2 separate regions of the Homo sapiens genome follow, and region 2 is linked to region 1. A link means that fine-mapping ties the variant in region 1 to the expression of a gene that starts in the linked region. Tissue or cell type: blood mononuclear cells. Region 1 holds a variant in brackets; the other region holds the start of a gene. All regions are shown on one strand. Distances are from middle to middle. Region 1 overlaps SPECC1 (sperm antigen with calponin homology and coiled-coil domains 1). Region 2 holds the start of SPECC1 (sperm antigen with calponin homology and coiled-coil domains 1).

Region 1 (2,798 bases):
TCTAAATTATATTGATGGTTGAAGCAAAAATTATAACCCTGTCTGAAGTGCTTCTACTAAATGTATGCAGAGAATTATAAATGGGGAAAGTATAGGTTTCTATACCTCATTGAAGTGGTAAAATGACAACACTGTGAAAAGTTACATACACACACACACGTAAGTATATATAAATATATGTGTGTATATGTGTGTGTATATATATATATACATATAATGTAATACAGCAACCACTAACAACACTATACAAAGAGATAATAACCAAAAACAATTTAGATAAATTGAAATGGAATTCTAAAAAATATTCAAATACTCTACAGGAAGACAAGACAAAAAGAGAAAAAAAGAGGAGGACAAACTAAATTTTTTAAAAACATAAATAAAATGGTAGACTTAAGCCCTAACTTATCAATAATTACATAAATGTAAATGATCTAATTATATCAATTAAAAGACAGAGATAGCAGAGTTAATTTAAAAACATAGCTATAAGAAACCTGCTTTGGGCTGAGTGCAGTGACTCACACTTGTAATCCCAGCACTTCGGGAGGCCAAGGCGGGTGGATCACCTGAGGTCAGGAGTTCCAGACCAGCCTGGACAACATGGTAATACCCCATCTCTACTAAAAATACAAAAAAATTAGCCAGGCATGGTGGCACACGCCTGTAGTCCCAACTACTCAGGAGGCTGCGACACAAGAACTGCTTGAACCCGGGCAGCAGAGGTAGCAGTGGGCCAAGATTGCGCCACTCCAGCCTGAACGACAGAGTGAGACTCCACCTCAGTTGAAAAACAAAAAAGAAACCTGCTTTAAATATACCAACATATGTTGGTTGAAATTAAAAGAATAAAATATATCATGAAAACATTAATCAAAAGAAAGGAGTGGCTATATTAATAACATAAAATAGACTTCAGAGAAAAGAAAATTTCAAGAGACAGGAATAAAAGGATCAAGAAAAGATCCTGAAAGAAAAGCAGGCAAATCAATCATTCTGCTTGGAGATTCAACACCCTCTCTTAACAACTGATAGAACAACTAGACAAAAAAATCAGCATGGAGTTGAGAAGAACTTAACACCACTGAACAACAGGATCTAATAGACATTTACGGAACACTCTACCCAACAATAGCAAAATAAACATTCTTTTCAAGTATTCACTGAACATATCCTTAGACCCTACCCTGGGCCATAAAACAAAGCTCACTAGTGATTGCCGAAGGCTTGGATGGACAGTGGAAGAGCTGCATGGGGAGGGAGAAGGTGACAGTTAAAGAGTGTAGGATTTCTTTTTGGGATAATGAAAATGTTCCAAAATTGATTGTGGTGATGTTGG[C/T]GCAACTCTACAAATATAAAAAAGGCCATTGAATTGTACGTTTTAAGTGGGTGAAACATATGGTATGTGGATTATATCTAACGCTTTTTAAAAACTTAACACATTTCAAAGAATAGAAGTCATACAGAGTGTGCTCTACTGGAATCAAACTAGAAAGAGGTAACTGGAGGATAACGAGAAAAGCCTCCAAATACTTGAAAACTGGACAGCACATTTCTAAAATCATCCGTGGGTCAAAGATATTCATTTCTGATATTCATTTTTATTGTTTAATGTATTTTTAAAAATTTCTTAAGGGAAATAAACTGACTAAAAATGAATATGGCTGGGTGCGGTGGCTCACGCCTGTGATCCCAGCACTTTGGGAGGCCGAGGCTGGTGGATCACAAGATCAGGAGTTCGAGACCAGCCTGGCCAAGATGGTGAAACCCCGTCTCAACTAAAAAACTACAAAAAGTAGCCAAGCGCAGTGGCGGGAGCCTGTGGTCCCAGCTACTTGGGAGGCTGAGGTAGGAGAATCGCTTGAACACAGGCAGCAGAGGTTGCAGTGAGCCAAGATTGTGCCACTGCACGCCAGCCTGGGCGACAGAGACTGCCTCAAAAAAAAAAAAAAAAAAAAGAATATCAAAATTTGTGGGACATAGTTAAAGCAATGCTGAGAGGGAAATTTATAACACTAAATGTTTACATTAGAAAAGAGAAAAAGTTTCAAATCAATAGTCTCCACTCCCATCTCAAGAACACAGAAGATGAAGAGCAAAATAAACCCAAAGCAAGCAAAAGAAAGAAAATATAAAAATAAATCAGTAAAATTGAAAACAGAAACACAATAAAGAAAATCAGTGAAACAAAGTACTGATTCTTCGAAAGATTAATAAAATTGACAAACCTCTAGCAAGGCTAACAAACAAAAAAGAAAGAAGACACGGATTACCAGTTATTAGAATGAAAGCATAATTAGAAACAACTCTACACATTATAAATTTGACAATGTAGATGAAATGGACTAATTACTGAAAAAACACAAATTACCACAACTCACCCAATATGAAATAGATAATTGGGATAGCCTGATAACTACTGAGAAAATTGAATTTGTAATTTTAACACTCTTAAAACAGAAACATTAAACTTAATATTTTATAAATATTAGATAAGGTAATTATACCCTTCCTTAACAAATAAAAACGACAAATTATTTTGCAGCTAAAGAGATGTATGTACTGTGAAAAATATCTTCAGAAAAATAGAACTTTGTTTGAAGAATAAGGATTTAAAAAATGTTTTTAACTCTCAAGAAGCAAATATCTGGGCCCAGATGGTTTCACTGAAGAATTCTACCAAATGTTTAATGAAGAATTACCACCAACTCTACATAGCATCTTTGAGAAAACTGAAGAGAAGGGAACATCTCCCAGTTCATTTTATGAAGTGGGTGTTACTCTGATACTAGAACTGT
Region 2 (2,798 bases), 30 kb after region 1:
GTTAATCCTGCAAAGCTAATTTCTGTTGAGGTATTAGGATTGACAAGCCTGTGCTCCTCCCTCCTCCCCCATCTTCAACACTGAAATAACACGGTGTTTGGAACTGGATAACAGAATCTTCCAAAAACAAAAATTGTCCTGAAGGGCTGACTTGTGCCCTTACTCAAAAAACACTTTATCTGCTGCCTGCAGCTCCTACAGTTGCTGGTGGATAAGCCTGCCAACCAGCTCGGCGTAATTCTTCCTGCAGAGGGCAAGGAAGAGCACTTTCACAGGAAAATTTTTTTCCGAACTGTATGCCGCTTATTACATAAACTTACGTGCTGGCAAATGGAGCTCCAGCAAAATAAGATATTCAGAGTCAAACTTCCTTAGGAAAAAAAAAAAAAAAAAGCAAGCACATAACACTAATTTCCTTGCATGGGCACTGGGGAAGGAGGTCGTTACTTCCGCACGCCCGCAGGTCCGCACCACCGGGAAACCCACGGGCACCGCGCGCTGCCCCCGGGCCTTCCAGGTGCACTGCGCCGCGGCGCCCCAGCTGACCCGGGATGCGCAGCCCTAGCCCTTCCCCTGTCACCCCGGCCAGGAAGGGGCGGGAGCGCGGCGGACGCCGAGGGCGAAGGGCTTCTCGGTCCTCTGCACCACGCAGCACCCCCAAGGCACAACAGGGAGGGTGCGGGAGGCTCCCGAGACCCAGGAGCCGGGGCCGGGCGTGCCCGCGCACCTGTCCCACTGCGGCGAGGGCTGGGGTCGCCTCCAGGGCCGCAGCTGTCGGGAGCCACCTGGCTCTCAGTCCCGGGTCCCTGCGACAACCCTCGGGCCCGGAGGGGAGGAGGCGGCCACCTGCCGCTGCCACCTGCGGCACCGGTCCCACCGCTCCGGGCCGGGCAGGACAGGCCAGGACGTCCCTCCTGGGCTGGGGACAGGACACGCGACGAGGGGACCGGGGCCCCCGCGGCGAAGACGCAGCACGCCTTCCCAGAAAGGCAGTCCCGTGCCCCCACGACGGACTGCCGGACCCCCGCGCTCGCCCGCCCATCCCTTCAGACCACGCGGCTGAGGCGCAAAGAGCCGGCCGGCGGGCGGGCTGGCGGCGCGGCTAGTACTCACCGGCCCCGCTGGCTCAGCGCCGCCGCAACCCCCAGCGGCCACGGCTCCGGGCGCTCACTGATGCTCAGGAGAGGGACCCGCGCTCCGCCGGCGCCTCCAGCCATCGCCGCCAGGGGGCGAGCGCGAGCCGCGCGGGGCTCGCTGGGAGATGTAGTACCCGGACCGCCGCCTGCGCCGTCCTCCTTCAGCCGGCGGCCGGGGGCCCCCTCTCTCCCAGCTCTCAGTGTCTCATCTCCCTATCTGCTCATCCTCTGGTCGCACATAATCGATGTTTGGGCGTCCCAAGCCAGATGTGGACCCCATTTCCGCACTCTACACTGGAGGTTTTCTAAGGGTGGTGCCCGGACCAGCAGCTTCAGCCTCATCTGGGAACTTGAGAAAATGCAGATTCTCCGTCCCACCCAGCCTATTCGGTTTTTCCTGCACTAAAACCATGAAGGTGGGGCCCAGCAGTCCACATTCTCGCAAGCCCGTCAAGTGATTCTGAGGCGCCCTCCAGTTTGAGAGCTATGCTCACGGCCTCACCTCCGCCCCGCAAGGAGCCCGGTCTTGCCTGTGGCGCTAGCCGCACACGGACACCTCATCCTGCGGGGCCCGCCCCCCCGCTGCACCCTCACCGCCCAACGCCTCCTCCGGGATGCAGCGGAGGCGCCTGGAAGTCGGCAAGGTCAACATCCCCCTCAGCATCTTCCCTACCCTCACGGCTCCTCCTCCAGGGGTGCCTCATGGCCAGGGGTTAGAAAGAGCCACTGTGTTTCTTGACATGGAAGTGGCCTAAGACCTTAATGAAAACTGCAGGAGTGGAATGACAGAACCTTTGGTCATACTTGAGGGCGTGAAGCTCAAATGAGGAGGAAGGAAAGGATCCAGGGAGAATAACCAACCCTGGCAAGTTGTGGCGCCCAGGTAGAGGGGCGAGCCTAGGCTAGCGGTTCTCGACCAGGGCCGGTGTTGCCCCTCCTCGCCGCCCCGCGTACATTTGGGGAGGTCTGGAGACATTTTTGGTTGTCATGATGCGGGAGTTGCTACTGTTGCCTAAGTGGGTAGACACGAGGGTGCTCCTCAACATCCTACCTGAAGGACAGGACTGCCCCACAAGGAAGAATGATCCGGCCCCAAATAAGAAACCCTGGGCTGGTCAGCAACAACCCCTTTGTTCTGAGAAGAGAGGAGGAAAGAATAAAAGAAGTGGGGTGAAGTTTTGGTTTGGTAGAGGAAACTTGAAGACATTTTCACTGGAAAGGAAGAGAGGAAGAGGAGGGAGATGTCTGTAAGGACGAGCAAACCGGGTGACAGCTGATTTCCTCATATTGAAGTAATGAGTCCTAGTTATAATAAATTCCTAATAAAAACCCAGTTTATCCCTGCAATAAACTTGTCTTTTTTTTTTAAATATACTGCTTGATTCTGTTTGCTAATATTTTATTTACAGGCTTTGCATTGATATGCAAAAATGAGATGGGCAATAATTTTCTTTTTGAATGTCTAATGTTGTTTGGTTTCAGAATCAATGTTATGCTCACATCATAAAAAATTTGGAACCGAGGCAGGAGGAGTGCTTGAGGCCAGAAGTTCGAGACCAGTCTAGGAAACACAGTGAGACCCCCCCATCTCTACAAAAAAAAAAAAAGAAAAAAAAATGGGCATGTTTGCTTTTTCCTTTTACTCTGAACAATTTAAGGAGC

The links.
Region 2: it holds the start of SPECC1, and the variant in region 1 is fine-mapped to the expression of SPECC1 in blood mononuclear cells (TOPMed, PIP above 0.99).

What each region holds. Positions count from the first base shown.
Region 1 is chr17:20,037,564-20,040,361 of GRCh38, reverse strand. All of the region lies in intron 1 of SPECC1 (sperm antigen with calponin homology and coiled-coil domains 1), which reads right to left. Among named protein-coding and RNA genes, the nearest start is that of SPECC1, 30 kb to the right of the region's middle. The variant C/T (reference allele first, on the strand shown) is at 1,340.
Region 2 is chr17:20,007,740-20,010,537 of GRCh38, reverse strand. It overlaps SPECC1 (sperm antigen with calponin homology and coiled-coil domains 1), which reads right to left and starts at 1,179. Exons shown (of 15, transcript NM_001243439.2): 1 at 1,114-1,179. SPECC1-DT (SPECC1 divergent transcript) reads left to right here and starts at 1,278. Exons shown (of 1, transcript NR_186461.1): 1 at 1,278-2,483. RefSeq lists silencers at 508-687, 708-1,377 and an enhancer at 1,810-2,377.